Regions from separate parts of the Homo sapiens genome. Here regions 1, 3 and 4 are each linked to region 2. The links come from fine-mapping of genetic effects on gene expression. A gene starts in region 2. Each other region holds a variant in brackets. All regions are shown on one strand. Distances are between the middles of the regions.

Region 1 (8,101 bases), 180 kb after region 2:
TGAATAAATGTACAGGTTTGGGGATTCAGTGGACAACACAAATAGGATAAACTAGGCAAGTAACTTCCATACCAATTTCTTAAGTCTTCAACCAGGTCCCATAGAGTCTAAAGCACAAATACCAATGTGATTTTTAAAAATATAAAACTAAGCAACAGAAATAGCTAGACATGCTCTGGGAACTAGTATCAACTCCATCCACTCACTAAGCAGAAGCCTTTGACGTTTCTCACTCAGAAGCTTACAACTGAAGACCCCACCACTGGAAGTACCTACCTTTGGCGGTTTGAGGCCTATGTACTCTTCACTTCTCGAATTCTGGGTTAAGGGGAGACAGATTCACACACTGGAATGACTAGCCAACAGCAAAGTGTTCTAGTCAATGATGAACACTGCGGGCTTCCAGACAATGTTAACACGCTGAATGCCAATTCCTCGCAACCCACCCTAAATGAGGAAGGACTGTTAGACAAATAGCTCACCTGGGGAGTGGACTCCGACTCAGAGACCGCTTGCTCAGGAAAGGGCTGCTGGACCGCCTTCGACCATAGGGACTGGGCGATCGCCCGCTGTAAGAGCCACTTCTTTCGTAGCTGGACGACCGTCTCCTGCTATAGGGACTGACAGATCTCTGTCGCCTACTGTAGGGGCTCGGTGACCGGGTGCTGGACTGGTAGGCCGAAGGCTCCTTGTAAGGGGGACTGACCGACTGCCTTCTCGAGGTACTTCCAGGACTTTTCTTGTAGGAGTCATAATTGCTCGAGGTATGAGATCGTGAGGGACTAAGGTCATAATCTTGGCCATAAGAAGCTCCCGAGGGGCTATCATCTTGTTTGGAGCTGTCAGACCACTTCCTGTGGGGGCTCCTGGATCTCCGTTTTGGGCTGTCCACTGTTTTGTAACTTTTGGGTGTTTCCCTTTTTCGATGACTTTTACTCCGGTCTTTGTGCCCAGACTTCAGCTCCCGTTCTTTCCTGGTCTTCTCCTTGTGGAGCTTGGATGACCTGGATTCCTTGCTGCTGCTTTTGGCTACCTGCGCCTTCCCATAGTCATCAGTCTCCTCATTCGAACGCTTTGAACTTCCCGATATCCGGTCCTTCATCGATCCCGACTTGCTGGAGACTTCTTGGCTTTTTTCTTTTTCGGTCTGTTTAGCTTTTAGTAAGTCCCGGGAACGCCTGTGCTGGTGGTGACGATGTTTGTGCAGGCGGTCGCTCCGATCTGATCCACGACGTTCGTCGTTCTCCCTTCGGTCTAGTTTGAAGGCCATGTCATCGGAGAAGGTGTCGGAATCAGAGCTGATATCATCATACTCCACCAAAGGTTTGATAACTGTGCCCAGGGATGCTGCTTCGGGGGTCACCAACCCCATGTCTTTGGAGTGTTTGGACTTATGCCGCTTGTGCTTCGATACCAAGCGGTGACGCTCTCTGCTGTTAGAGCTGCCGCCTCCCGATGACGGCTGCAAAGTTCCAGAAGCTCCTCCACTCCCGTCCTTCTTGCCCCCATGTCTCTCTGAATTGGGCATTCCCTTTCCCCTGACCTGAAGAAGGGAAAAAAGTTCCCCAGCACTCCAAAAAGCAACCCCCACCCACCCCCCCAACCCCAACTCCACGCCCACCAAAGCGCCCCGGGAAGGGGGTGGGGAGGGCAGGGACGGTAGCCCAGGCTCCTCCTCCCTCCCGACGCCTCAGCACCCTTCTACATGAGGTGGGGGGTGAAGGAGCGAGGGAAGAAATGAGAGTTCCTCGGCAGTGGAGTTGCGAGACAACGGGGAGCTGCTCAAGTCTGTTTCCTCTTCTCCCTCCGCCGAGCCAGTCCTCAGGCCCGGGCGCCGGGGAGGTCCAGGAAGTGAGAAGCCGACGGCCCGGGGCTGTGGAGCCGACTCCAGCTCTGGGGCCCTGCGAGGACTACGCGGGCCCTTCCCCTACCCGGTAGCCCGGTTCAGGACGGCTTCCTGTCGCCGGGGTGCCGCGGCCTAGGTGCCTCACGCCCCCTTTGTCCCTCGCTCCTGAGGTAGCCCCCTTTCTTGCCTCCGTTTCACCTCCACACCACACACACTCTCTCCCTCACACAGACCCAGTCACACACTAGATTAAACCGAAACGGCACTTGGGGAAGGGGGGAGGGGCAATCCCAGAAATCGTCGCGAGAGTCCAGTAGCCTCTCGCGATGTTTCGTGCTTCGCTTTCACCTCATTCCCCTGCTTATCAAACAACGCGAGATCAGGTCCCAAACTAGAAACGCGTTTCACCTGAGTCTCGCGATGAGCTCCCGGAGCTCCCCGTTTGAGCAAAGCTTTATTGAAACGGAACAAACCGAGTTTTTTTTTTTTAACCAAAACTTTATCGGTAACTGATTAAACAAACACTCCCAGGCTCCGTGACAAAATAATTTCAACATCCTTTTTAACAAATCTTTTAACTACCAGGATGACTTTTTTTTGTTTGTTTTTTGTTTTCCTTTGAGACGGAGTCTCGCTCTGTAGCCCATCCTGGAGTGTTAGTGGCGCGATCTCGGCTCACTGCAACCTCCACCTCCTGGGTTCAAGCGATTCTCCTGCCTCAGCCTCCCGAGTAGCTGGGATTACAGGCGCCCGCCACCACGCCCGGCTAACTTTTTTGTTTTTAGTAGAGACAGGGTTTCACCATGTTGGCCAGGCTGGTCTCGACCTCCTGACCTCAAGTGATCCTCCCGCCTCGGCCTCCCAAAGTGCTAGGATTACAGGCGTGAACCGCCGCGCCGGGCCATTTTTTTGTTTGTTTGAGACAAGTTCTCTCTCTTTTGCCCAGACTGGAGTGCAGTGGCACGATCTCGGCTCACTGCAGCCTCCACCTCCTGGGCTCAAGCAATCCTCCCACCTCATCCTGCCGAGTACTTGGAACTATAGAGTCGCGCCACCACGCCGTGCTAATTTGTTTCTATTATTCGTAGTGATGGGGTTTCGCCATGTTGCCCAGGCTAGTCTCGAACTCCTAGACTCAAGCAATCCGCGATCCTTGGTCTTGAACTCCTAGAATGAAGCAATCTGCCCGTCTGGTCCTCCCAAAGTGGCGGGATTACAGGCTTGAGCCACCGCGCCCGGTTGAGATTATTTTTTACAGAGCAAAAGACAAATGTCGGGACATTTCAACCCAAGTCCCTGAGTGTTTTAACAGTGCTTCCCACATATAGGGTGTGTGCTACCTGCCAAGAATTTTACATACATTATCTCTAATTTTCACAATTATCCTGCAAAACACGAGATTTTCATCCCTGTTTTATAGAAAAGGAATCCCAGCCTCAGGGAAGTTGAATAATTTGGTCCAACAAGTGCCACAGTCAACATTCAAATTCATGTCTTTCTGAGACTAAAACACAAGCTCTTCCATCCTATGGTGTTGTCTCCTTACCAATCTTTGCTTCAAATCTCAGAACCTAAAAGCTCATCCCATCTTGAGATCCTCCCATGGCCGTTATTGGATAATTTAGCCTTTCATCCTCATACAAAAGATTATAATATGAACAAGAAAAGCATAGTATTAATTAACAAGAAAATAACACTATCTTACACTGGCCCCTCATTTATTACTTTTTAAAAAACTTTCGCCTACCTTAAGTCATTCCATCTTCACAACAGTCCTCTGAAATAGGTTGTATAAGTGAGAAAACTAAGGCATGGAGAAATGAAGGGGCTTGTCCAAAACGGAGAAGTTCAGCTGGTAAATTCAGGACCAGAAAACATTCTGAATTAAGGTAGTCTCAATTCTCAAAAATCACTCTCTGTAAATGTTCTTGTTCCTTTTGCTCACAGGGCGATCCAAAACATTTTTTTTTTTTAACCTAATTTTGTGTGTGTGTGTGAAGGGTCTCGCTCTGTCGCCCAGGCTGGAGTGCAGTGGCACAATCATAACTCACTGTAGCCTTCCCCTCATGGGCTCAGGTGATCCTCCCATCTCAGCCTCCTGAGTAGCTGAGACTACAGCCACAGGCCACCAGCCCAGCTAATTTTTATTTTTAT[T/A]TTTTTGTAGAGATGGAGGGCTGGCTATGTTGCCGAGTCTGACCTCAGATGCCTGGGCTCAAGCATTCCATCCACTTTGGCCCCCAAAGTGTTAGGATTACAGGCGTGAGCCACCACGCCCGCCGTCTCTAAATGATTGAGTCCATAAATATTGGTTCTAAAATAAAAAGATCAGGCCAGGCACAGTGGCTCACTCCTGTAATCCCAGCACTTTGGGAGGCCAAGGTGGGCAGATCACAAGGTCAAGAGATGGAGACGATCCTGGCCAACATGGGGAAACCCCGTCTCTACTAAAAACACAAAAATTAGCTGGGCTTGGTGGCACACACCTGCAGTCCCAGCTACTCGTGAGGCTGAGGCAGAGGTTGAACCCTGGAGGCAGAGGTTGCAGCGAGCCGAGATCGCGCCACTGCACTCCAGCCTGGCAACAGAGCAAGACTCCGTCTCAAAATAAATAAGTAAATAATAAAAAAATTTAAAAAATAAAAAGACCAAGTTTTCCACGACAACTTTTTGATCTTCTATGGAAGTAAAATTAATGCTATCAAGAAAAAAGAAGTGGCTGGGAGCAGTGGCTCATGCCTGTAATCCCAGCACTTTGGGAGGCCAAGAGGGGAGGATCATTTGAGGTCAGGAGTAAGACCAGCCTGGCCAATGCAGTGAAACCCTGTTTCTACTAAAAATACAAAAATAGGCCGGGCGCAGTGGCTCACTCCTGTAACCCCAGCACTTTGGGAGCCGAGGCGGGCAGATCAGGAGGTCAGGAGATCGAGACCATCCTGGCTAACACGGTGAAACCCCGTCTCTACTAAAAATACAAAAAAATTAGCTGGGCGTGGTGGCGGGTGCCTGTAGTCGCAGCTACTCAGGAGGCTGAAGCAGGAGAATGGTGTGAACCCGGGAGGCAGAGATTGCAGTGAGGGGAGATCACGCTACTGGGAGGCAGAGATTGCAGTGAGGGGAGATCACGCTACTGCACTCCAGCCTGGGCAACAGAGCAAGACTCTGCCTCAAAAAAAAAAAAAATTAGAGGCCAAGCACTGTGGCTCATGCCTGTAATCCCAGCACTTTGGGAGGCCGAAGTGGGAGGACCACTTGAGGTCAGCAGTTCAAGACCAGCCTGGCCAACACAGTGAAATCCTATCTCTACTAAAAATACAAAAATTAGTCAGGCGTGGTGGTGATCGCCTGTAATCACAGATATTCAGGAGGTTGAGACAGGAGAATCGCTTGAACCCAGAACGCAGAAGTTGCAGTGAGCCAAGATCGTGCCACTGCGCTCCAGCCTGGGTGACAGAGCAAGACTCTGTTTCAAAAACAAACAAACAAACAACAAAAAAATATATATATATTTATATATACACACACACAAAAATTAGCCAGGCATGGTGGCATATGCCTGTAATTCCAGCTACTCAGGAGGCTGAGGCATGAGAATCACTAGAACCTGGGAGGCAGAGGTTGCAGTGAGCTAAGATTGCACCACTGCATTCCAACCTGGGCAACAGAGTGAGAATCCATCTAAAAAAAAAAAAAAGTGGCTAACAAAAAGAAAAAAGGGCTGAGTGTGGTGGCTGACATCTGTAAAACCAACAATTTGGAAGGCCAACATGGAAGGAATTCGTGAGCCCAGAAATTGGAGACCAGCCTGGGCAACATGTTGAGACATCTGTCTCTACAAAAAAATACAAGAAATGACAGGCCGAGCAAGGTGGCTCATGCCTGTAATCCCAGCAATTTGGGAGGCCGAGGCAGGCAAATTGCCTGAGTTCAGGAGTTTGAGACCAGCCTGGGCAACACGGTAAAACCCCATCTCTACTAAAATACAAAAGAAATTAGCCGCCGGGCTTGGTGGCTCACGCCTGTAATCCCAGCACTTTGGGAGGCTGAGGCGGGCGGATCACCTGAGGTCGGGAGTTCGAGACCAGCCCGACCAACATGGAGAAACCCCGTCTCTATTAAAAATACTAAAAAATTAGCTGGGCATGGTGGCCCATGCTTGTAATCCCAGCTACTCGGGAGGCTGAGGCAGGAGAATCGCTTGAACGCAGGAGGCGGAGGTTGCAGTGAGCCGAGATTGGGCCATCGCACTCCAGCCTGTGCAACAAAAGAGAAACTCTGTCTCAAAAAAAAAAAAAAAAATTAGCCAGGCGTAGTGGTGTGGGCCTGTATTCTCAGCTATTCGGGAGGCTGAGGCAGGAGAATTGCTTGAACCCAGGAGGCAGAGCTTGCAGTGAGCCAAGATCACGCCACTGCACTCCAGCCTGGGCGACAGAGCGAGACTCCGTCCCTACCAAAAACAAACAAACAAAAACAAGAAATTAACCAGGCATGGTGTTGCTTGCCTATAGTCCCAGCTACTATGAGGCTGAGATGGGAGGATCACTTGAGCCCAGGAGGTCAAGGCTGCAATGAGCCATGATCATGCCACTGCACTCCAGCCTGGGTAACAGAACAAGAACCTGCCTCAAAAAAGAAAAGAAAAAAGAAAAACACGGGCCAGGCATGGAGGCTCACGCCTGTAATCCCAGTACTTTGGGAGGCCGAGGCAAGCAGATCACCTGAGGTCAGGAGTTCAAGACCAGCCTGACCAACAAGAAGAAACCCCGTCTCTACTAAAAATACAAAAATTAGCCCAGCGTGGTGGCACATGCCTGTAATCTCAGCTACTAGGGAGGCTGAGGCAGGAGAATTGCTTGAACCCGGGAGGTGGAGGTTGCGGTGAGATGAGATGGTGCCATTGCACTCAGCCTGGGCAACAAGAGTGAAACTGTCTCCAAAAAAAAAAAAAAAAAAGAAAAGAAAAGAAAAACACAAGTACTGGAACTCAGTTGTGAACACTCCTTATTCACCGCTATAGGAGGATAGGACACCCTGGATATATTTTCTTGAGACAAGGTCTTGCTGTGCTGCCCAGGCTGGAGTACAGTGTTGCCAGGACAACCTGGATTTATTTTCTTGAGACAAGGTCTTGCTCTGTTGCCCAGGCTGGAGTACAGTGGTATGACCATGACACACTGCAGTCTTTTTTTTTTTTTTTTTGAGATGAAGTCTCGCTCTTGTCCCCCAGGCTGGAGTGCAATGGCACGATCTCGGCTCAGTGCAAGCTCCACCTCCTGGGTTCAAGTGATTCTCCTGCCTCAGCCTCCTGAGTAGCTGGGATTACAGGCGCCTGCCACCATGCCCGGCTCATTTTTGTATTTTTAGTAGAGATGGGGTTTCGCCATGTGGCTAGGCTGGTCTCGAACTCCTGACCTCAGGTGATCCACCCACCTTGGCCTCCCAAAGGGCTGGGATTACAGGTGTGAACCACTGTGTCCGGCTGACACACTGCCATCTTCACTTCCTGAGCTCAAGCAATCCTCCAGCCTCAGCCTCTCCTGGCTGGGATTACAGGTGTAAGCCACAGAGCCTGGCTAATTTTTTTTTTATTTTTTGTAAAGACGGGGTCTTGCTATGTTGCCCAGGCTGCTCTTGAAGTCCTCGGCTCAAGGGATCCTCCCACCTGGACTCCCAAGATGCTCGGAATACAGGCATGGGCCACTGTGTCTGGCCTTGAATGTTTTACATGATGACAGATGGCATGAGACTTCCTGGGCTGATTAAATGTAGTGACCAGTCAGCCATAGTAAGTGTTGGCATGGGTTTGTTGTCATGAGTTCAATAAAATTCACCCTGATTTTTCTGTCTTTTAAATGAGATCAGGTTTTTATTTTTAATTTCTTTTTTTGAGATGGAGTCTTGCTCCGTTGCCAGGCTGGAGTGCGGTGGCACTATCTTGGCTCACTGCAACCTCTGCCTCTCTGATTCAAGCGATCCTCCTGCCTCAGCCTTCTTAGTAGCTGGGATTACAGGCACACGCCACCATGCCTGGCTAATTTTTGTATGTTTAGTAGAGACGGGGTTTCACCATGTTGATCAGGCTGGTCTTGAACTCCTGACCTCATGATCCACCCGCCTTGGCCTCCCAAAGGGCTGGGATTACAGGTGTGAGCCACCATGCCTGGCCTTTTTTTTGGGATGGAGTCTCCCTCTGTTGCCTAGGCTGGAGTGCAATGGCTTCATCTCGGCTCACTGCAACCTCCGCCTCCCAGGTTCAAG
Region 2 (8,101 bases):
AGTGCCTGGCCATGATACATGTCTAGTAAGTTAGCCTGTGGATCCATAATGTCCACCCTGGAACAGGGAAAAGGGTGTGGGTTTGGGGTTGGACACCAGTCCTGGAGGCAAAAACCTAAGGCCATTCCTTATTAGATTGTGTGCCCTTGACCAAATCACTGGGTTTCTCTGAACTTCAGTCTCCTTTTCTGTAAAATGGGGAGAATATAGTACCTACTTCACAGAGCTTGAAGGGATTAGAAACAACACATGCACAGTGTCTGTGCTTAATTAATAGCAGCTATTACTACTATTACCCATGGGGACAGTGTTAGAGGCAGGACCCTGGCCAGGCAGGTCCAGCATAGCACTTTGCCCAAACTGAGAGTCCCAGCAGTACTGCAGAATGGAAGGGTAGACCCTGGCTTCAGGGGGCTGACCCAGAATGACACTTTTTTTTTTTTTAAGAGACAGGTCTCACTATGTTGCCAGACTGGAGTGCAGTGGCTGTTCACAGGCGCGATCATAGGACACTGTGGTCTCAAACTCCTGGGCTCAAGCAATCCTGCCTCAGCCTCCCAAGTAACTCTGGGTCAGCATTTCCCTTATCACAGCTAGATGTTTCAAGGCCATCTGTCCTAAGCCCTTGAGGTCCAAGTCACAGCCACAGTGCCTGGCCACGGTACATGTCTAGTAAGTTAGCTAGTCTGTGGATCCGTAATGTCCACCCTGGAACAGGAGAAAGGGTGTGGGTTTGGGGTTGGACATCAATCCTGGAGTCAAAAACTTGGGAGTAGGTTCCCAAGTAGTTGAGCCTACAGGTGTGCACCACTGCGCCTGGCTAGGATGGCACATTCAGGGTTACTGGCCCATGCCATCAGCCTCGGGATGGTTGGCTGACTGGCCCTACTATAGCCCTCCACAGAGGGTTTGGGAAATCCCCTGGAGAAGTGGGAGTGTAGGGAGAGGAGGACACAGCTACAGTGACAAATAAGACCCAAAGCCAAAGCCTGGCTCTGTTTCTCCTTTCCTTCTGAGGAAGCGGAAGGGGAAGAGTTAAGCCAAATAGAAACAAGACTCACCACCACACACTTCTCCCCCCAGCCGGGGAGGCTCTGCGGGTGCAGTGTACAGGAAGACCCTAACACACTGAGATCTACTTGCCCTCCCTTCCCCCTTGTGCCAGGCCCTGTGAATCATCAGGGATGCCCCCAGTTCTGTGATTCCATGACCCCTGACCCACTCAGGGCCAGTGAATCAGGCCCCACCTGCCCTCTTCGTGCTGCTATGTAAACCAGTGAGGTCAAGTTCCCAAGGTTAGTCTGGAAACGGCTAGTCATCTTCCAGGAGAGATCTCAGCCCTCTCAAGAAAAGGCCCCCATAGGGCAAGGGACAAGGGGTGGGGGGGTTGGGGGGATGGAAGGGAGCCGGTTTCAGCACAGGATCCTCCAGGCACCAACCCTGCCTGGACAAAGCCAGGATTAGCCTCTCCTCAGCCAGAAAAAGGGACACTTTTCTTTTGTCCCACTGATGTGGCACCTGCCCCCTTGGAGGCTGGGACCCCAAGGCAGTTTCTGGGAGACATGCAGACCTGGAGTCAGGAGACAGCTCTTTAAATCCCTGCTGAGTGATCTTGACCTTACCTCCCCTGAACCTCAGCTTCCTCATCTGTAAAGTGGAGCCAACAGGCTCTCGCATTCAGTGGAACAGGCACAAGCTGCCAGATGTGCCGGATTTTTTATCTCCCCCGCACCGCTCTCCCTTAACAAGTCTAGCTGTGTGAGAGCTCAACTTAATGCAACATGCGGGTTCCAAGGGCCTACAGTATGCTGGACACAGTGCAAGTCCTGGGGCCACAGGACCCTGTTCTGGTCCATCAGGGACTCTGGGTCTGGTGAGGAAGACTGGCAGATAAATAATACCATGCTGTGATCAGCGCTTTCAGGGAGGAATGAACAAAGGACCGTGGGCTCCCAGAGAAGGGATCATCTGACCCAGGCTGGAATGAGTGAAGTCAGAAAAGCCACAGGGAGGAGGGGCCATCTGACCCTGGCCTTGAAGAGTCAGCATCTATCAGCTGGAGGCAAGGAGGGTGGGCATTACAGGGAGGCAAAAGAGCTCCAAAGAAGGCCCAGCCCAAAGGCATGCACAATGGCCCTACCCAGGGGGCCTGGTCCCAAACACCAGGTACTAGGCCTCCGGAGCATAGTTGCCCCCAGGCATGGTCCCTGCTGGCTCCCAAGTCAAGGGATGCTTCCTCATGGCCAATACAGGAAAGGAATTGCCAGCGTCAGCAAAGGACGCTGCCTCTGTCTTCCTCAGCTCCGTCTCCCCTGTTCCCCCACCCAGCCACCATCTACTGGAGCTCTGTTCAGAGGACCCAGCTTTCTGATCTCTGAGCCCACTCCAGCCTCTGCCTCCCTCTGATAAAATCCTCCCATCGCTTTATAGGCCCCATTAACTGTCAGCTCCTCAGAAGCCGCCCCTGGTCTTTTTCTCCCTCTAGTTCCCAGATCTATACATTTCTCTAGATTTAATGCTTGCCATGTAACACACACACACTTCCAGACTGGTTTTCCTGAGCAGACCAGGTCTGAGCCTTTTTCACTCTTGAATCTTCACTCAATAAATCCAGACCCTGCCCCCAGTGTCCTCCACTCCAGCATTTTATTTATTGGCAAAGAGCCAGGCTCTATCCAATGACTAGTAAGCCACTTCAACCATCCTCAGGCAACTTATGAAATTAAAAATCATAACTGGTGAACTATGTTGTCCTTACATAATAGTAATAACTTTTTATTTATTTATTTTAGAAACAGGATCTCACTCTGTCCCTCACACTAGAGTGCAGTGGCACAACCATATCTCGTTGTAACTTCAAATTCCTGGGCTCAAAGGATCCTCCCACACGTACCACCATGCTCAGCTAGTTTTTTAAATTTTTGTAGCGATGGGGTCTCACTATGTTGCCCAAGCTAGTTGCAAACCCCTGGCCTCAAGCGATCATCCTGCCTTGCCTCCCAAAGTACTAGGATTAATGCATGAGCCACTGCACCCAGGCAACTCACTTTAATTTATTGAGCATTCTTGTGCCTAGCACTGGTTTAAGACCTAAACATACAATATTCCATTCAATCCTCACAACTCTATGAAGTAGAGACATTCCTACCTCCATTTTACAAGTGAGGAAATTGAGGCACTGACTTCATCAAGGTTACCAAACAGGTCAGAACCCAGGCAGTCTGATCCAGGAGTCTGTATTCTCAGCTACTATGCTATTATGGACAGGGTGCTACAGGACACAGAAGGGCAATTAACCTTGGGGGTTAGGCGGAGGCAGCGCTGCCTGCGCTGAAAAACATGTAGAAGGTAGCCCAGCAGACAAGAGAAGGAGGAGGTTTCCAAGCAGCGGGGGCTGGTGTGTGCAAAGTCATGAAGATACGAACAGCAAGGGTAGGCATGGCGCATGCTGCAGTGCCGTATTATTGGACCTTAGGGTGCACACAGGAGACTGCTAGGTCAGATCACAGAGAGCTGTGTAAATTGTGCTAGGGGTTCAGCACATAGGCAATAGAAAGCCAGAAAAAGGTTATCAGCAAGGAACTGGCACCGTAAGACTTGTGTTCTAAAAGGATCACAAGAGTTACAGTTTGGAGACTGGGTTGCAAGCTGCCAGGGCTGGACTGTTGGGAATTGACAATACATCAACAGCGTGGTAACAGAAGAGATGGAGCTGGCCCAGGTTTGAAGGATGTTCAGGAAGTTGGCAGTACTAGGTCACTTTTAAGATGTGGGACTTGAAAGAGAGGAGAAAGTGTAAGGAAATTACCAGACTTCCGGCTGGGTTGGGGTAGAGGAAGAATTAATCTGCAAGGAAAAGACCAGTTCAAGTTTGGACCCAGTGAGCTCCATGTGAAGCAGAGCTGTCCCAATGGCCGCTGGATGGGCAAGCGTGGAGCTCCAGGGAAGGGCTGCGCTGAAGATGTGGATCTGGGTATTTAGTTGGTGTAAAGCTGAAGCCGTGGGGGAAAATAAGACCACTGAGATTCAGTGTACAGAGCGAGGGGTTGGGCGACAGAGGAAAACGTGAAGCGGGACTTTGACCGACTGTCAGAGCGGTACGAAGAAAACCAGGAGACATTGACTAACCCAAAAATGCGGGGTGAGGGAACGTGTCATTAGAAATGAGTGTCAATGGTACTATGCACCTCTAAGAACTCAAGACTTCAAAGGGCCCTTTTAATACCAATTAGGAAGTTATTCACGGCCGTTTCGAAAGGAAGTTGGGGAGACACGGGATGACACTGAGACGCAGAGCTACCGGAATGCGTAGATGTTTTCCTCTCACCCCAGATTCCGACCCCTCCCCATACCTGCCCCTGCTCATAACACCCAGACACCTCACCCTCTCCTCTCCCCTCAGTTAAGACGGAGGCTTTGGAAGGAGATCCCGAACGTCCTCCCCGGGCTCCCCAGGATAGGCGGGGTCGCCAAGAGTCATTGCTGGAGACCCCAACCCGCGCGGGGCGGCGCGAGGCCAGACAGAGGAAGGGGGCGGAACCTGAGACGCAGCGGGTGTGGGAAGGGTCGGACGGAACCCAGCACGGACAGCGGGCGGCGAAGCGGGTTCGACCGGCGGAAGACGGCCCTCGCACGCCACCCGCTCCCAGCGACCGCTCCGGGACCCACCTGCTCCATGTCAGCCACGGCCCCGGCTCTTCCCGCCCCAACCGCAGTCCGGCTCCGCGGCCTCAGTAGCGCCTCAGAGCGGAAGAAGATCTTCCGGCAGCGCCACTTCCGCCGCTGAGTCCGCCCCCGAGAGCGAAGCGGGACTTGCGTTCGCCTGCGGCCCCGCCCCTTCGCCCCGCCTCCAGCCCCGGCCCTGCGCAGAAGCGGACTCAAAGGCCGGAGTCTAAGGGCCTACCTAAGGGTAGGGGAGTGGGAAGAAGACCAGGGCCGTCGTTATTAGGCCACACAGGCCTGGCACTGAGGGAAAAAGGGGAATTTCCCGAGGGGAGTCCTGTGGGGATGGGGAAATCTTTGGAGGAATCCAGTTATTCGAGAAGGACTTCCCCACCCCACCTGCCTCCTTCAGCCATCCCAAGCAGCAGCTAGAACTTCTGTAGTTCTTCCTCTGAGTGCCCCGAGCCTGCTGTCTGCCAGAAAGACTCCTAGACTAGAGGATTGGACAGTAGGGTCAAAACCCTAACCCTTGGTTGACCACCGGCCTTCCCTATCAGGACGCCCCATTACCTCCCTTTTCCTCCTGCTTCCCCTGAAAGAGGAGTCTCAGCAGTTATTTACAAAGATTTATTACAGCACGGGAGGGGTTCAGGCCTGGAGTCAGGGAAGAAGGGGAAAGGGGCAGAGCAGCTGGGGGACAAGGAAAACCTGGCGCCCCCCGCTGTGTGCCCCACCGGGGACATAAACTAGGCGGCATTCCTGGCATCAAAGCACAAAACGCAACAAAGAGGTCTCTGCCAGTCCATCTTCCAGGCACCCAGGAGGAGCAAGGGTGATTAAGGGAAGATTCCCAAAATGTTGAGGCTATGGAGAAAAACGCCTTAGTCCTGGACCCTGGTAGAAGCCGGTGAGAGAAGTGGTGACTTGGAATCCTCCATAGGAAAGTGGGTAGAAAAGGATCTAAGGGTACCTCAAGGTTCTCAGGACCTCCTTTCCCCAGATCTTAGGGTCCTGCCCTGTGGGTCTCCTGTGTCCAGGGGAGAGGATCTGGGGAGTAGAATTGTGAAGGGCAAATCCCTGTTCCCGGTTTTCTGGATTTTCCAATGTGGGCTGTCTCACATCCCACCTCCCGCTGGGTGAATGGAGGAATGACTGGCAGGGGTGGGCATCAGGCAGCAAGTGCCCAGGTTCTCTGGGTATCAGCCAAAGGTGGGCAAACAAGCAAACACAGACCAGCCTTAGTCTTCTAGAAGTCAGAAGCCGCAGCCCTAGCAGGCGAGGGGAAGAGCACAAAACAGGGTGAGGATAGAGTGGGTTTCTGGGGAACAGCGATGTCCCCTCCACTTCCTCCTGGGAGATGCAGGCTGGGTGCCTATGTGCCAGGCTCAGAGGGGGAAGGGCGCTGAGGTTCCTCCCCAGGCTCTGAAAGGCAAGCAGAGAGGGACTCAGGGCCTGGCCCCACCCACCAAGATCCCAGCCCCTCCTCCCCATTTCACACTCCCAAGCCTTACCACTTAGTGCTGGGTCTTCCACTTGGTCCTCAGAGCCTCCATCTCTCTCGGACTCATCCAGAGGGGGTGGGCGCTCCCAGGGCCCTTCCAGACCCTGGCCACAGGTTGTCTTTTGCCCAGCTGGGGATGGGAAAGAAGAGATAAGAACACAGGCTCTGCGTATCCATCCGGCTGTCCTGGAGTGTGAGCTAAGTGTCTGATGGCTGAGGTTAAGCTTTCCAGGGGCATCATGGAAGCATGGAGAGAGAACTGGGCTAGAACAGCTCTCCCAGCAACTAGCCATATGGCTTACGTAAGTCAGTTAGTACCTTTCTGAAGGAAATAGAAAGGGGGAAATTGTGTAGATTACCTTAAACAAGATGTAATAGTGAATACCCTGCCCAGCCCAGCGCCAGCACCCAGGAGCCACTAGGAGTCGTGGTGGTTTATATTGCTCCATCATAGGACTATCATTTGACCCGGTGCCCTTCTGCATTTTTTGTTTGTTTGTTTTTTTTTGTTGTTTTGTTTTGGTTTTTTGTTTTTGTTTTTGAGATGGAGTCTCACTCTGTTGCCCAGGCTGGAGTGCAGTGGTGCGATCTCAGCTCACTGCAACTTCCACCTCCCAGGTTCAGGGGATTCTTCTGCCTCAGCCTCCCAAGCAGCTGGGATTACAGGTGTGTGCCACTGTGCCTGGCTAATTTTTGTATTTTTATTACAGATGGGGTTTCACCATGTTGGCTGGACTGGTCTTGAACTCCAGACCTCAAGTGATCCGCTAGCCTTGGCATCCCAAAGTGCTGGAATTACAGGCATGAGCCACCGCACCCAGCCACCTGCTGCTTTTCCTGAGGGAACAGTCTCCTCTCACCCCTCTTCCACTGTTTTGGAGGGGTCTCAGTGAGGACTGATTCAGGTCTTCCAGCTGTCTCTTGCCCACAAAGGGACTGAAGCCCAGCAACAGCTTTTGCCCCCATGGCCAATCTCTTCACTGCCAGATATGCAGGCAGGAGGCCCAAGGCCTTTTGTTTGTGTGGAAGAGCTGACAGCTTCTAGTAGGGGTGGTTGACTCTTCAGTATTCCCATAAATAATGAGACTAAAAAGGTTAATGGGCCGGGCTGGTTCTTGAATTTTAAATTCTACATCTAAACACTAGAGGGCACCCTCCCACTCCATCCTAGGAAGGAAAAAGAGGAGAAACAGACAACAGTCCTGGAGAGGGCAAGTAAATGAGGCAGCCCTCTGCACCCCAGCAGAGACCACATCCTAGGTTCAAAAATGTAGGTGAAATGCAGGTGACAGGGGTGTTGGACTCTCCTGGTCCTCCATCCCTGAATGTCCTCACGCCCCCTTACTGCCATAGGTGGGAAGTCCTCTTTTGGCTCTAGCCTCAAACCCCAAACGGCCTTGGCCTTAATTCTCAGGGAAGAGAGGAATTATTAGGGAAAACCTGATTGGGAGAGGGACTGAGCCAAGGATGGAGGAAACCCATGTCTCAGGTAGGGCTGAGTTCGGGGCACCCCATGGAGCGAGAAGACAGGGAGGCCCCTGTGGTGTCACTACAGTTTGCGTGTATGAGACACTGAACTAGAAGGGGACGTCCTCGTATACTCAAGGAGGACCCACAGCTAATCCACATGTCACAGGCCCCTCAGCTTACCAGACTGCCTGATGACCTTCAGGACTTCAGCCTGGCTGTCCTCTTCTTCTTCCTCTTCTTCATCATCCTCCTCTTCCTCCTCATCTTCCTCTCTTGGATAACCCAGCTCCCGAAGCTCCCCCAGCTCATCCTCCTCCTCTGAGGCCTGGTTCTCATTCAAATTGCTGATAGACTGCAGGTGAGACTCAGCAATGCGCTGCACAGCTGGCACAGAGGAGACCGAGGAAAGCAAGGGTCAGCTAGACACAGCCCATGGATCTGGAGATAGCCTGTGGCCTAGCCCCCAGC
Region 3 (8,101 bases), 190 kb before region 2:
ACGGCATCATTGCTGAGGTCGAGGCCCAGTATGAGAAGATCGCCAACCGCAGCCAGGCCAAGGCTGACAGCATGCACCAGATCAAGTATGAGGAGCTGCAGACCCTGCCTGGGAAGCACAGGATGACCTGCGTTGTACAAAGACGGAGATCTCCAAGATAAACTGGAACATCAGCCGGCTCCAGTCTGAGACAGAGGGCCTCAAAGGCCAGAGGGCTTCCCTGGAGGCCGCCATTGTGTATGTGTGGGGAGCGGTCCATTAAGGATGCCAATGCCAGGGGGTCCAAGCTGGAGGCCGCCCTACAGTGGGCCAAGCAGGACGTGGCGCGTCAGCTGCTCAAGTACCAGGAGCTGATGACCATCAAGCTGGCCCTGGACATTGAGATCGCCACCTACAGGAAGTTGCTGGAGGGCAAGGAGAGCCAGCTGAAGTCTGGGATGCAGAGCATGAGTATCCATATGAAGACCACCAGGGGCTACTCAGGTGGGCTGAGCTCAGCCTACAGGGGCCTTACAAGCCCTGGCCTCAGCTATGGCTTGGGATCCAGCTTTGGCTCTGGCGGGGGCTCCAGCTCCTTTGGCTGTGCCTGCTTCTCTAGGGCTGTGGTTGTGAAGAAGATCAAGACCACGATGGGAAGCTGGTGTCCCAGTCCTCTGATGTCCTGCCCAGGTGAAAGGCCATAGCAGCCCCTCCCAGCCTACCCCCTCCCATGGCTTCTCCAGAGCCTGTGGAGGAGGCCACTGTGCAGGGGAGTATAGGGAACAGGAGACCCACCTGAGGCTCAGCCCTAACCCTCAGCCCACCCATGGGGAGTTTACTGCCTGGGATACCCCCCTTGCCCATGCCTCCAGCTACAAAACAATTACATCATTTTTTTTTCCTCCAAAATAAAGCCTCAGCCAGATCTGCAAAGCAAAACAAAACAAACAAAGAAAACCAACAAAAACCAGAACATACATATGTCTCAACTACACATGGCACATTCACCAAGAACACCAGTCTTAATACTTTTAAAAGGACTACAGTCACACAGACTGTGTTCTCTGACTGTAGTGCAATGGAATTTGACTTCAATAACAAGTTAGCTAAAGAATTCCCGAATTCCCCCAAATATCTGGAAATTAAACACTTATAAATAACCAGTGGATCACAGAAGACTCGAGGGAAATTAGAACTGAATTATAATCAAAACATCAGCATTTATGAGATGCAGCTAAAGCAATGCTTACAGGAAAACTTATAGCTTTAAATGTTTACAATTAGAAAAGAAGAAAGGAATAAAGTCAGTCACTAAAATTTCACCTTAAGAGGGCAGAAGCAGAGTAAGTTAAGCCCAAAGTAGAGGGAAGAAGCACTTTTGAACAAGTTCTAGTTTCACTGTGTTGAAACTAGATATATGCCTCCTACCCTATAACCCAGTAATTCCACACCTAGGTATTGACTCAAGAGACATGAAAGCATATGACCACAGAAATACTTGTGCAAGGATGATCATGCTCCAGTCTAATCATGAGAAAAACAAACACATCCCAGTTGAGGGACATTCTACAAAATACCTGACCAGTACTCAAAACTGTCAAGATCATCAAAACAAGGAAAGTCTGAGAAACTGTCCCAACCAAGAGGAGCCTAAGGAGACAAGATGACTAAATGTAATGTGGGATCCTGGAAGGGATCCTGCAACAGAAAAAGGACATTAGATGAAAACTAAGGAAATCTGAATACTTAGATAGTAATAATGTATGAATATATATTCATTAATTATAACTGATGTACCATACTAATATAAGATGTTAATAATAGGGGAAATTGGGTGTGGGGTATATGGGAACTCTCTGTGCTATCTTTGCAATTTTTCCATAAATTTAAAACTACTCTAAAATTTAAAAGTTTATTATTTTAAAAAGGAATATCATAGTAGTTTGACTTATAAATAGCCCAAACTGGAAACAGTCTAGGTGTCCATCAATAGGAGAATGGATAAACAAACTGGGATATTCATATGGAATACTACTTAGCAATAAAAAAGAATGAACTACTGATAAACACCACAGAATGGATGTATCTCAAAACATTATGTTGAGTGAAAGAAGCCTCGGGCAAAATAATTTATACCATATGTCTGTGTGATTCTGTTTTTATGAAGTTCTAAAATAGGCTAAACTAATCTATGGTGGAAAAAGTCAAAACAGTAGTTGTCTCTGGAGTATGTGGGTGGGAATTGACTAGGAAGAGATGTGAGGGAGCTTTTCTGGGATGATGGTAATGTTCTGTATCTTGATAGGGGTTTGCATTACATGAGGATATGCATTTTTAAAAACTCATTGAATGGTACACTTAAGATCCATGCATATCACTGTATGTAAAATTTACTTTTTAAAATCTTGTAAACAGATATTGAATTTTAGTTAATAATAATCATGCTGAAATGTTAGGACTGAGGTATACTGATATCTGCAACTTATTTTGCAATGCGTTGAAAAAGCTGGATCGATGAATGGATTGAGAGATGAATGGGTGGAAACATATGTGAGAAAGCAAAAATAGCAAAATGTTAATTGTAGAATCCAGAGGGTGAGTAATGGATGTTCAACTGTGCAGTTCTTTTTTTAAAATTTTTTATTGATACATAATATTTTACATATTTATGGGGCACATGTGATATTTTGTTACATGCATAGAATATATAATAATCAAGTCAGGGAATTTGGAATGTTTATCACCTTGAGTATTTATCATTTCTATGTGTTGGAAACAATTCAAGTCCTCTCTTCTAGCTATTTTGAAATATATAATACGTCGTTGTTAACTATAGTCACCCTACTCTGCTGTCAAACATTAGAGCTTATGCCTTCTATGTAACTATATGTTTTACCCATTAACTAATCTCTCTTCATCCCCCATTCCCACCCACACACCCTGTCTATCATTCTACTTTCCACCTCCATGAGATCAACGTGTTTACTGTCATATATGAATGAGAACATGTGATATTTGTCTTTCTGTGCCTGACTTATTTCACTTAACATAGTGACTTCCAGCTCCATCCATATTGCTGCAAATGACATGATTTTATTCTTTTTAATTGCTGAATAGTATTTCATTATATATATGTACATATATATGTACATATATATATATATACCACTTTGAACTCTTTTTTTCTATGTGTTCATAATAAAATATTGGGGAAGAATAAAGAATATATGAAATTATTTCTAATGGAACCCACTTTTTGCATATTGTTCTTGGTGTAAGTAGATCTCTGGCAGAAAGTTCTTAGAGTAACATTGCTGCATCAATATTTTTTTTTCATGCTCCTTGAAAGGCTTTTAGGGAGAATATAGAGAAAGAGTAATCTTGCTCTGAAAGAGGAATTCTGCTGTTAAGTTTTCCGAAATGGTATCCCTTATTAAATTTGGAATGCTCAAACCTGTAGAAATGTACCCTAAGTAGCTAATATTTATAACCTCTTTCTTTTCAGATATACAAACAAATGCGGAACTGAAAAGCACTCAGGAGCAGTCTGTGCCCGCAGGTAACATCAGGTCTTTCCTCTCTGGAAATATACCTTTACTAAAAAAAATACCAAAGAGAGAGGAATGTGCTTATTCTGGTTGCAGTAAAAATGCTATGGAAATGTGTGTGTGTTTTTTTTTAAATATGGTTGTCTGTTGCTGATGAAAAAATAACTCATCCATTTAGATCATGTAAGTTCTTTAGCATCTTAGGGCCAAACATACACTACCTAATGTTGATCACTGTTTGTTTGTTTGTTTGTTTGTTTTT[G/T]ATTTTTCAGCTCATTGCTCTGAAGACAGTTTTTGTTGAATAATATAGTAGCTTGTATTTGAATGACTTGCGATTTTTACTGTAGAACAGTGGTCTGCAAACTTTTTTGTAAAGGGCCAGATAGTAAATATTTAGACTTTGCAGGCCACATATGGTCTCTGTCACGTATTATTTTTTGTATTTCTTACAACCCTTAAAAAATGTAAAAACCATTCCTACCTCTTGGGCCCACACAGAAGCAGGCTATGGTCAGACTTGTACCTCAGGCCATAGTTTACTGATCCCTGCTCTAGAATAAATTATAAACATTTACAATAATTTATTTCCTGAAAATAACTTCTGTGTCCTCCATTGATTAACTCACTGTGTGAATCAAAGCTTACATTATATTACAAAATTTAATTTATCACTGAAATGCCTTTTTGTGTTACTGTAACTTGTAATCACATCTTTCTTTCTTTCTTTTTTTTTTGAGACGGAATTTCGCTCTTGTTGCCCAGGCTGAAGTACGATGGTGTGATCTCGGCTCACCACAACCTTAGCCTCCCGGGTTCAAGCCATTCTCCTGCCTCAGCCTCCTGAGTAGCTGAGATTACAGGCATGCACCACCATGCCTGGTGTATTTTTAGTAGAGGCGGGGTTTCACCACGTTGGTCAGGCTGGTCTCGAACTCCCAACCTCAGGTGATCCGCCCGCCTCGGCCTCCCAAAGTGCTGGGATTACAGGCATGAGCCACCGCACCCGGCCAATCACATCTTTTAACTGAACCTAAATCTCATATTAATTGTTTAGGTGTCCACTATATTTTAGTCATTTCAGGCTTGAGAAAAGTGAACCATTGTTTAGAATGGTATCTTAGAGTTCACAGAGTATACATCATAATATGCAGAAATTAGAAACTTCAGATATTCATAAATCAAACACTGAGTCCATGGTGACCACATTTTCAGGGGCTCTTAGTGATGGGTTTTGTGAAACGTGTTTCTCTTTCGCTCCCGCGTGTGTTTGGTCATGGCTCAGCTGAAAGGAGTGCCACTGCAGAGCTTCTAGTTACCTCCCTACTTCAGCCCAGCCTCAGTGCCACAGGATTCAGTGTCTTTGACTATTTTTTATATTAATGGGAACTCAGCAAATATTTTATTGAAGATTGGGAAGGAGTTAGATAAAAAGAGGGTAACTTTTCAGTTCATTTCTTCTGCTATCATCTTTTTGTTAAGCTACTATGCCTATATGTGAAAATAATTCCAGTTGCATTGTTCCTTTTTCTTCTAGTATTATCAATATTTATTATACATTTCTCTTAAACTTATTTTGTAACAAGTTTGCTGTTTGTTTAAGCATGTCTTTATTATGTCTGCTCCCTTTCACTTATGAACTTTAATAACACTTTGTATTTCCTTTATTTAATCCTTTGTCTGAGCCTACCATGTGTTAGAGTTGTGGGCTTCTCTTATCTATATCTCAAAGTATGAGCTCCTTGAAGACATAATGACTTATTCATATCTGTAGCCTTGTCAACATTCAGTAAATGTTCAAACAAATAAAGAAACTTGGGGTCCAATATGTTTTCCACAGAATCACATTTATAATGTGAACAGAAGGGAAAAACAGAATTTGGCATACAGAAAGCTTACAGATCTTCCTCCTAGGAAAGCATCTTTCCCAAATTAGGTTATGCCAGTGTTTGCACGCTTAGTATTTCTGGTCACTACTTTGTCATAAATAGCAATGGCATCCTACTGAATATCGTGAGATATACCAATGGAGAGATAGTTTTTCTCCAGAAGGAACATGAGTGCCCTTTAACTCAGATGAAAGAAATATTCAAGAAAGTTGTGTGTATTCAGAGGGTACATGAACCCTGGGCATATTTCTTTTCTCTTTTTTTTTTGTTTGAGACGAAGTCTCACTCTGTCACCCAGGCTGGAGTGCAGTGGTGCTATCTTGGCTCACTGCAACCTCCACCTCCCGAGTTCAAGTGATTCTCCTGCCTCAGCCTCCCGAGTAGCTGGGATTACAGGCATGCACCGCCATGCCCAACTAATTTTTGTATTTTTAGTAGAGATGGGGTTTCACCATGTTGGCCAGGCTGGTCTCGAACTCCTGACCTCAGGTGATCTGCCCATCTCGGCCTCCCAAAGTGCTGGGATTACAGGCGTGAGCCACTGCGAACCCTGGGCTTATTTCTAAACCTCAAGAGTTTTCATGTATACATCCCTTTTGGGTATGTGTGAAGGGGTACTATCTGTCACTAAAGGATTGTGTGAAGCTGAAAGTTAAATGGGGGTCTACTTAATATATATTTATAAAAATCCTTTAACGTTGAACCACATACTTAAAATTCCTTTTATCTTTTAGAAAGTGCAGCGGTTTTGAATGACTACAGTTTAACCAAATCTCATGAAATGGAAAATGTGGACAGTGGAGAAGGCCCAGCCAATGAAGATGAAGACATAGGAGGTGAGCCGTAGTGTGCAGACTAAACACTGATGCCTGTAGATATTGCTTAGGCTTAGTGTAGAGAAGAAATCAGCTCTCCAAGGAAAACTTGCAATTGTAGGTTTAGTTAGGAGTGATTCTGTTTTGTTAATTTCACAAATATTTGCATTTCATAGTTGTAGGTTATCAGCAAATTTTGAGAATTTAAGGTGCTTATCCAGTGTTCCAATTATATTAACTTCACTTAAAACATGATGTTTGACTATTTTCCATTATAAAAGTAATACATGTTTATTGTAGAAAGTTTGTCTGGGGTGTTTTCTGACACCAACAAACCAATTTTCTGGTTTTCCGACAATGACTTGGTGTCCAACAATTCAATTCAATTATTATTATTATTTTTTTTTGAGACGGAGTTTCACTTTGTCGCCCAGGCCAGAGTGCAGTGGCGCAATCTCGGCTCACTGCAACCTCCGCCTCCCATGTTTTAGTGATTCTCCTGCCTCAGTCTCCCAAATAGCCGAGATTACAGGCGCCCACCACCATGCCCGGCTAATTTTTGTATTTTTTTTAATAGAGACGGAGTTTTACCATGTTGGCCAGGCTGGCCAGGAACTCCTGACCTCAAGTGATTGCCAAACTCAGCCTTCCAAAGTCCTGGGATTACAGGCATGAACCACCATACCCAGCCCACTTCAATTCAATTCTGATTGTAATTCCTGATGTTTGCGTAGACCGCACAGGTTACAGGCTCAGTCTCACAGTACTGCACAGTACTCTCCCTACTTTAGACAACAGTCTCAAGTACCAGGTCCCCAGGTTACCTGCACTTTTGTCTGACTTAGCTACAAAATCGGGGACTCCCCTCCACATGTTTAATAATTTGCTAGGATGACTCACAGGACTTGTTACATAACTCATTTATTCATTCCTTTACTCTCAGCTACTCTTCCTCCTTCTTACTGTTTATGCCCAAACTTTCCCACCTTTGGGAGGAATATTAGGTTTGACCACTGCACTGGTCTAGATCGTAGGCAGCAATACTAGTCTAGCAAGCACCTCTCCCTCAGTCAACTCCCATACATACAGGATAGGGTTACACAGGTACGGAACTAGTGGGCTATTTCTACCACTAGGCAATACATCTGCATTCAATGTTAACCCCAATTTTGCCAGATGGGGTAAAGGCACAGCCTGCCTCATCAGGCCCTTAGGAGTTCTGACATAAAGGTTTAAAGCTACGGTTACACTTTCTTGCTTTAGAAATCATCTCTGTTTCTGGCACTTGTAATTACAGTGCTGGTATTGCAACCACTGCATCTGGTAGGAAAGAGAAAGCTGATGTGACAATGTAGGGAAGGAAAAAAAGAATAGTCATCACACCAATATCCTCCTCTTTGGCAAGAATTGTATAGTCATATCAGCATCCTCCCCCACCTCCTCTTCCCTAATCCACCAGAAAAACAGAGGAATCTACCTAGTGGGAACACTCCCTTAGCTCATTTCAATGTGACCTCACACTTGTGCAAATGCATAAACCAACCCTTCACACCTATACCTTACCCTATTTTAGATATCTATCAAACTACTACTCTGAGGAGGATAGCTCTTTGCCCATTGTTTGACATTATGGGCTGTAAGTAGAGTGCTCCTTAGTCTAAAGAAATGTGGCTCAGCCATTCAAATTGGTGCAATATCTTCTGTTCTGGTTCTTTCGTGGTACTGACCATTTGTGTATACAACCAGGTAAGCAAAGCCCCTTCCAGAGTCTGTGTTTATCCCCGTCAAAAACAATTTATAGGTTGGGTGCAGTGGCTCACACCTGTAATCCCAGCACTTTGAGAGGCTGAAGCAGGAGGATCTCTTGAGCCCA
Region 4 (8,082 bases), 37 kb before region 2:
AAGAAACAAAGCCTCAGAACCCACACTCCTGTGGATGGCCTAGTTTGGCTTTCCCAGTTGCTCTTGGGCTTCCCAGTTGCCCTGTGAGTTTCTGCAGGAGGGAGGGATCCTGAGCTGTATGGAGGGTGCGGCAGTGGACTTTGACCTGGGCCTTCTGGGGCACTGAGGCTCCTGATTTCTGTTGGGGTGAGGATAGGAAGGCAAGGTCCCTCACCCGCTCCGGGCTAAGTCTTGGGGGAAGGGTACCTCAGCTTTGCCTCTGGGAAATGAGGAGACCCCGCCCTCCAGCAGGACTCATGATAACGCTGGCACAAGAAGGCAGCCCTTGCCTTGCCATTTAGGCCTGGGCTTGGGCTGGGGAGCAGCCAGGCGGCGGGTGGGGAGCCTACCAAAGCTCCGCATACCATGTCTCTTTGACTTCACGGAGTAGGGGCCCCTGCTGTGTGCCAAAGCCAGAAGGCCAAACCAATTCCCCAGGCCTTCATCCAGTCAGGAAAGGTCCTCAGGTGTAGAGAGGAGGGTGAAGTGGTGGGAAGCCCAAACCATCTCTGTAGAGTGGTTTGTGTAGGTGGGGACTGATTCTTCTCTTCCTCTGTTAAGCAAACTACAAGAAGAGGTAGGTTGCAGCTGTAGTAGAATGATGGTTAGACTTCAGGAAGGACTTCCCATGGTCAGACAAGAGCTAGTGGAACAGGCAATGGCAGGAAATCAAGGGATCCTCTGGGATCTTGGAAAAAGCCCTCCTTCTCCCATCCGCATCCACCTCTGTCTCCCTTCTCTCAGGAGTGAGCTGGGGCTGGCCTGCCCTGCCTGAGGCAGGGGGTGAGACACTGTGGCCTCCAGAGGAGCCCAGGATGGCAGCAGGCATCATATTTAACATTCTGCCTCCCCCACTTCTGAGACACTGAGCTATTTTAAGCCCCACTTGTCCCCACCGCCATGGTGTCAATGACAGCCCCGAGCACTGGGGCTTAGCGCCGGGTCGAATTCCTGACAGATCTGGCTCACTTGGCATCCAACCAGTTTCACGGCTGTGATATTTTTGTCTCGATTTTCTTATTTCCAACAGACTGAAACAGCCTCTTGCTCTCCCTCCACCCAGTCTCCTATTCCACCCCCACTGGCACCCTGCCCCTGGCCACCCCCTCTCCTCAGTGTTTACGCAAAGCTCTGGGTGCCTGCTGGGCAGCCTGTCGCCCTCCTGGCCAGTTCCCCTCCCTGCCCCCCTTCACTTGAGCGTGGCAAGGAGTCCGAGAGTAGCCGTGCCTTGGCATCTTGGAACTCTCCTTCCTTCCAGAGCCCATCTTTCCCCTTTGCTTGCTCTTGATGACAAACTCTGAGTGAGGAGAAATGGATCTGTTCGGTTCACATTGATGGGAACATGGCTCCAGAGGAAGGAGGAGGGGCTCTTCCTATAGCTGAGGTGTCTCCGTTCTGGAATGGAGAGACCCTGAGGCCCCATAGTTTGACCTCAAACTTTGTGACCCTTGCGGAAAGGGAAGTTGAGGGGCAGGTGAACGGGCGTGGTGAGAGTCAGTCTACTGGACCTGATGAAGGAAACTGACATTGATGGGCACCTACTATGGACCAGGCAGCAAAACCAGCAGCCATTCAGAGGAGTTCCTTGGTGCCAGGCATTCCGCAGACCTCGTCCTCATGGCCTCCTGTGCAGTGAGCATCATTATGAACCTGTTTTGTAGGTGAGGCAGTGGAGGCTCACACATACTGGGTTATGTGTCCAAGGTCACACAGCTGCGTAGGGGCTGAGGCAGGACTTGAATGCAGACTCTGTCTCATTGTGAAGACTGGACACTCTTCCCCCAGCCTGGAGCTGTGGAGGTGGGCCTAGGCAGCTAGGAGACCACCCCTTATCTGCCTAAACATCCTTGGCCTGCAGGGAGAGTGGGAGGCAGACATCCTCTTAGGCCTCAGTTCTATGGGAAGCTGACGGGGTTCTGTGCTGGTCAGGCAAGTGGAGAGAACACTCATGTTTCAGCCTGTCCTGGGCTCTGTGCTGTACGCTGTATTTGTATTGCTCATTAAACCCTTATCAACTATGATTATTCCCATTTTGCAGATGAGAAAACTGAGGCACAGCAAGGCTAAATAACTTGCCCAAGGACACACAGGAAATGCAGAGCCAGGAACTGAACCCTGGCAGTCTGGCTGTAGGGCTTGCATTCTTAATGATACCACTACCTCCCAAATCTGAGGAAAGGGTGAGAAGAGGAGCACCCCCAGAGTGGGATGCTCCCCAGGGGGGAGGGGCTTTTCAGGGGTGCAGAGGCCAGGCTTCAGGTGGGTCTCTGTGAGTGGAAGGCACCCAGGGAGGCGGTTGGAGAGGGGACCCAGCAGCCCCACCCATCCTGTGGCCCTACGCATATGTTTGCCCGCACACACACCCCCTGCTTTCGGTGTTCTGAGCCACTTAGCTCAGTCCTGCAGTCCTCTTCTCACCTCCCCCTTCCTGCTGTGGGTGACAAGGAGGCCTGGCTGGCTGCCAGTCCCTGCCGCCTTCCTCTTCTCCTTCCCACATTGGCTCCAGGGCCACTCTCCTCCCTAAGGATGTCCCTGTTCCTGGCCTGCCAGGGAGAACTGGTCCATGTGATTGCCTGGGTCCCGTCTCCAGCCCAAGCCTGCTCCTCTCCCCATGCTGACTCTAAGCTTTTCAGACTGTGGGAGCAGTGTCTGAGAAGCCACCAGGTTCAGTCCTGTTGTGCAGCCTCCATGCCTGTCTCTGGGGAGGGGGCTGCAGCAGGGCAGAGCCTTGAGTCTGGTGGAAGGGACAGAGTGGCCATCCTCAAAGGAGGAAGCAGCCTGCCCTAGACCACACCACCTAACGCCAGGCTGGAAAGGAACTGAAGTTTCACTTGAGCCATGATTTGTCCCGGGGGAAGCTTGGGCTGAGAAGGGCAGGGCCCTTTGACCAGGTCAAGAGGAGCAGAAGCAGCAAGGCTCAGCCCAGAGCCCAGGCCAGACAGGGGCACTAGGCAGCCTTGCGCCTTCCAGAGCTTGGCACCCCGAGAACCTGACTGGCTGTGCAGCAGTTCTGCCCCGCCTGTACCCCTTCTCCTCCCATTCTCTCCTGAGCTCCCCAGACCTGCATTTGGAATGCATCTTACTGTCTGACCTGCCTGCTACAGTGCCAGACAGAGTGTAGCTTCTTGCCCCCTCCCTCTGTCCCCTGCCTGGCCAGTTTTCCTGGTACATTGGAGCCAACTGAGCAGTTCCTGGCCTTTCCTCATCTCCGCCAGGCCTGTCCCACCCTAGCGCATCCCTCCCCACCTCCAGGCCATTCCCGGCCTGGCCTGCTGTTCCTTTGGTTGTCACGATTTCCCAGCCCTTCCCTTCAGCCCACCCTGCTTTCAGCAGTTTGGGCCTTTGCTGTGGACACAGCAGTCCCTGAAGAAAGTGCCAGCACCAACGCCCACAAGCTCTTAGGCTCATTCGCTAGATAACTTTTGTGCTCTCTCCACGCAGCTAATTTCCAGGAAGAAGGCCTCAAACATTCCCCTGGGCCCTGGCCCACCACAGCCCCTCCAGTCCTGCCCTCTACTCCTCCCAGGCTCGGGAGCAGCCACTGGTCTGGCGGGTTGGGCAGGCCCAGCCAGGAGGAAGCTGGGCTTGGTTCACCCTCCTCCTGGGAGCCTGTGCCCCAGTGGGATCTGCTTGATCTCCCTCCCCTGCTGCTTGGAACACACCCCAAGCTGGCTCGAGCCCCTCCACCCCACCCACCTCATTCCCGCCCCCAGAGGCTGAGGTCACTGGCTCCCCTGGGCCCGGGTGGGGTGGTGCTGTCAACACCTGCCGGTTGGAGGAGGAGGCAAGGCCCCTGGGGGCTGTTGTCTTAGCAATTGAGTAACTAGGGAGCTTGGCTATACCGGAACTGGTTCCCAGGCCAGGCCGGAACCTGTGGAGGCTGCAGCCCCCCGTGGCCTTGGGGGTTTGGGGTGGCAGGAAGTCCACCCCAGGGACCCTGGCTGGGTGGGGGTAGAGGGACATAGGTTTGTTCAGAGGGCTCCAGGGGCAGGAAAAGCACATTTCTTGTCCTGCAGAGCCCCTTCCCAAAGGTGAAATGGATGTGAGCAAATGGGGGTCCCTGCCTTGAGGTCAGGGTGGGGGGCAGCATGCTCACCAGCCCCTCCCTCCTTAGGTGTCCCTCAATGCATGGTTCTGGTCCACAGT[T/C]TTCCACACCAGGGACACTGACCTCACAGAGGTGAGCATTCCTCCAGCTCCCCCTCCTGCACAGGGTGGTCCCAGAGGAGCCCAGAAGTGGGCAGAGGGGCTCTAGAGGGTCATGCCAACTCCCTCTGAGGAGCACTGGGAGGAGTATGGGGTGGGCATCCTAAACCTGTTGGTGCCCTTGATCCTCAGTGAGCCTCATCAGGTGGGGATGAGTATTCGCTCTTCTTGCCTGATGAGGCAGCTGAGCCTTCGACAGGGGGACCACATGCTTAGGGGCACCCAGCCAGTGAAGGGTTGCCACAGGACGTGACCCCATGGCTGTCAGACTCCACACTGTGCTCTGAATTCTGTGCAGCGTGGTCATGTCCTGGAGCCTCAGCAGGAACCCTCCACCAGCGTCCCTAAAGCCTTGTTCCTGGGCACATTTTTAAAAACTTGTATGGTGATGTGAACACAAGACTCAGTCAGAGTGAAACAGTGATAGGCAGGCCCAGGACCCCGGCCCCTCTCTGCCACTCCTCCATGCCCCCATCCCCGCGGGTCCTCTCCGTGAAGCCTCATGCTGGTCCCTCACCACCCTTCCCTGTCCTCAGAAAATGGACTACTTCTGTGCCTCCACTGTCATCCTACACTCAATCTACCTGTGCTGCGTCAGGTGAGCCTGCCTGGGTGGCTGCAGGGGCAAAATCGAACCCTGGGGGCAGAAAGGGGTCACCCAGCCTTCCCCTGGGGGCCTTCTTCACTAGTCTCCCAACACCTACGCCCCCCAACCCCCAACACATCAGCTGTCCTGGGTGAGGACTCTGGGGTAGGACTGGGGGCCCTGGCTCCTGACAAGGAGCTGTAGCACTTGCTGCCCAGCTGTGGCCTGTTTGGTGGGGAGAGGGGTAGTGACTTCAGGGGCCATGCACCAATGTTGGGGGGAGGAGATGCTTCAGGGAATGCTGCTCTGGGGATGGGCCACCTGCCCTCTGAGCAACCCTGGACGGTGGGGCAGGACCGTGGGGCTGCAGCACCCAGCTGTGGTCAGTGCCTTCCGGGCTCTCCTGCTGCTCATGCTGACCGTGCACGTCTCCTACCTGAGCCTCATCCGCTTCGACTATGGCTACAACCTGGTGGCCAACGTGGCTATTGGTGAGGCCCTGGGGGGCTTGGGCCATCTGCAGAAGTGCTAGCTTGGGGTGCGAGTGGGAGGTTGGTGCCATTCCTGGAGAAGGAGGTTCTAGAGAGACTCTTGGGGTAGAGGAATGGAGAAGAATTTGAGGTGGGAGAGAGAGGAGGCTGGGAGGAGAGTCCGAGGATGATCCTGGGGTCAGAGAGCATGGAGTTGGGGGTGGCCTTGGGGAGAAGGAGCCGAAGGAATGAGTCTCTCCTGCCCCCACTGGCACCCAGGCCTGGTCAACGTGGTGTGGTGGCTGGCCTGGTGCCTGTGGAACCAGCGGCGGCTGCCTCACGTGCGCAAGTGCGTGGTGGTGGTCTTGCTGCTGCAGGGGCTGTCCCTGCTCGAGCTGCTTGACTTCCCACCGCTCTTCTGGGTCCTGGATGCCCATGCCATCTGGCACATCAGCACCATCCCTGTCCACGTCCTCTTTTTCAGGTGGGTGCTGCCCCCTGCCTGGTGCTCACCTTCTTTGGACCCTTCCTTGCCCACTCCTTAGGGGAGATTGGGGGCTCTGTGTGCCCATCCGCCCCCTCCCACCTTGCCTGCATGCACCCCACCCTTGTCTCCATGCGAGCTGTCAGAGCTGTGTGCCTCAATGGGCTACTCCTTTGGCCCACAGCTTTCTGGAAGATGACAGCCTGTACCTGCTGAAGGAATCAGAGGACAAGTTCAAGCTGGACTGAAGACCTTGGAGCGAGTCTGCCCCAGTGGGGATCCTGCCCCCGCCCTGCTGGCCTCCCTTCTCCCCTCAACCCTTGAGATGATTTTCTCTTTTCAACTTCTTGAACTTGGACATGAAGGATGTGGGCCCAGAATCATGTGGCCAGCCCACCCCCTGTTGGCCCTCACCAGCCTTGGAGTCTGTTCTAGGGAAGGCCTCCCAGCATCTGGGACTCGAGAGTGGGCAGCCCCTCTACCTCCTGGAGCTGAACTGGGGTGGAACTGAGTGTGCTCTTAGCTCTACCGGGAGGACAGCTGCCTGTTTCCTCCCCATCAGCCTCCTCCCCACATCCCCAGCTGCCTGGCTGGGTCCTGAAGCCCTCTGTCTACCTGGGAGACCAGGGACCACAGGCCTTAGGGATACAGGGGGTCCCCTTCTGTTACCACCCCCCACCCTCCTCCAGGACACCACTAGGTGGTGCTGGATGCTTGTTCTTTGGCCAGCCAAGGTTCACGGCGATTCTCCCCATGGGATCTTGAGGGACCAAGCTGCTGGGATTGGGAAGGAGTTTCACCCTGACCATTGCCCTAGCCAGGTTCCCAGGAGGCCTCACCATACTCCCTTTCAGGGCCAGGGCTCCAGCAAGCCCAGGGCAAGGATCCTGTGCTGCTGTCTGGTTGAGAGCCTGCCACCGTGTGTCGGGAGTGTGGGCCAGGCTGAGTGCATAGGTGACAGGGCCGTGAGCATGGGCCTGGGTGTGTGTGAGCTCAGGCCTAGGTGCGCAGTGTGGAGACGGGTGTTGTCGGGGAAGAGGTGTGGCTTCAAAGTGTGTGTGTGCAGGGGGTGGGTGTGTTAGCGTGGGTTAGGGGAACGTGTGTGCGCGTGCTGGTGGGCATGTGAGATGAGTGACTGCCGGTGAATGTGTCCACAGTTGAGAGGTTGGAGCAGGATGAGGGAATCCTGTCACCATCAATAATCACTTGTGGAGCGCCAGCTCTGCCCAAGGCGCCACCTGGGCGGACAGCCAGGAGCTCTCCATGGCCAGGCTGCCTGTGTGCATGTTCCCTGTCTGGTGCCCCTTTGCCCGCCTCCTGCAAACCTCACAGGGTCCCCACACAACAGTGCCCTCCAGAAGCAGCCCCTCGGAGGCAGAGGAAGGAAAATGGGGATGGCTGGGGCTCTCTCCATCCTCCTTTTCTCCTTGCCTTCGCATGGCTGGCCTTCCCCTCCAAAACCTCCATTCCCCTGCTGCCAGCCCCTTTGCCATAGCCTGATTTTGGGGAGGAGGAAGGGGCGATTTGAGGGAGAAGGGGAGAAAGCTTATGGCTGGGTCTGGTTTCTTCCCTTCCCAGAGGGTCTTACTGTTCCAGGGTGGCCCCAGGGCAGGCAGGGGCCACACTATGCCTGCGCCCTGGTAAAGGTGACCCCTGCCATTTACCAGCAGCCCTGGCATGTTCCTGCCCCACAGGAATAGAATGGAGGGAGCTCCAGAAACTTTCCATCCCAAAGGCAGTCTCCGTGGTTGAAGCAGACTGGATTTTTGCTCTGCCCCTGACCCCTTGTCCCTCTTTGAGGGAGGGGAGCTATGCTAGGACTCCAACCTCAGGGACTCGGGTGGCCTGCGCTAGCTTCTTTTGATACTGAAAACTTTTAAGGTGGGAGGGTGGCAAGGGATGTGCTTAATAAATCAATTCCAAGCCTCACCTGCCCTTGTTCAGCTCATTTGTGTGAATAGGGTGGGCTGGAGGGCAGGAGAAGACAGTTGTGGCGGCAGGGGCAGGTCCCAGAGCTGGCTGGAGGCAGTAAACAGAGGTGAGGTCTCTGCCTGGGCACGTGGCATGGGGAATGGCAGGCCCCAGAGGCAGAGCTGGGCAGAACTCAAGTCCAGTTGTGAGAGGGAGCTGGAGCCAGTTCTTTCCCTTTCACTTCCCTCGGCCATTGTGCTTCAATCATAACACCCCCACCTCCCCACCACCTTGCAGATTCTACTTCCATCTCCTCATGATCCCCACTCTCCCTCGTTCTGGTCTGAAGCAGTCTGCACTGTTTGTGACTTCACCTCTCTGAGCTTCAC

Evidence for each region.
Region 1: its variant is fine-mapped to the expression of STARD3 in whole blood (TOPMed, PIP above 0.99).
Region 3: its variant is fine-mapped to the expression of STARD3 in blood mononuclear cells (TOPMed, PIP 0.98).
Region 4: its variant is fine-mapped to the expression of STARD3 in whole blood (INTERVAL, PIP 0.98).

Annotation. Positions count from the first base shown.
Region 1 is chr17:39,455,499-39,463,599 of GRCh38, reverse strand. It overlaps CDK12 (cyclin dependent kinase 12), which reads right to left and starts at 2,114. Exons shown (of 14, transcript NM_016507.4): 1 at 483-2,114. The coding sequence starts at 1,528. RefSeq lists enhancers at 1,333-1,462, 488-1,687, 1,853-1,912, 2,003-2,052, 1,413-2,337. The variant T/A (reference allele first, on the strand shown) is at 4,001.
Region 2 is chr17:39,633,799-39,641,899 of GRCh38, reverse strand. It overlaps STARD3 (StAR related lipid transfer domain containing 3), which reads right to left and starts at 4,756. Exons shown (of 15, transcript NM_006804.4): 1 at 4,669-4,756. It overlaps PPP1R1B (protein phosphatase 1 regulatory inhibitor subunit 1B), which reads right to left. Exons shown (of 7, transcript NM_032192.4): 5 at 7,814-8,017; 6 at 6,174-6,293; 7 at 5,276-6,084. The coding sequence ends at 6,035. LOC124903998 (a long non-coding RNA gene) reads left to right here and starts at 4,610. Exons shown (of 2, transcript XR_007065749.1): 1 at 4,610-4,909; 2 at 6,874-7,262. RefSeq lists enhancers at 4,085-4,204, 5,988-6,611 and a silencer at 4,745-4,814.
Region 3 is chr17:39,827,535-39,835,635 of GRCh38, reverse strand. It overlaps IKZF3 (IKAROS family zinc finger 3), which reads left to right. Exons shown (of 8, transcript NM_012481.5): 2 at 3,485-3,538; 3 at 6,148-6,249. It also overlaps the pseudogene KRT8P34. Among named protein-coding and RNA genes, the nearest start is that of IKZF3, 33 kb to the left of the region's middle. RefSeq lists an enhancer at 1-240. The variant G/T (reference allele first, on the strand shown) is at 3,790.
Region 4 is chr17:39,670,751-39,678,832 of GRCh38, reverse strand. PGAP3 (post-GPI attachment to proteins phospholipase 3) reads left to right here. Exons shown (of 8, transcript NM_033419.5): 4 at 4,154-4,216; 5 at 4,779-4,840; 6 at 5,183-5,319; 7 at 5,578-5,782; 8 at 5,967-7,711. The coding sequence ends at 6,030. Among named protein-coding and RNA genes, the nearest start is that of PNMT, 6.3 kb to the right of the region's middle. RefSeq lists a silencer at 2,282-2,341 and enhancers at 2,500-3,045, 3,046-3,591, 556-3,962, 3,592-4,139. The variant T/C (reference allele first, on the strand shown) is at 4,186.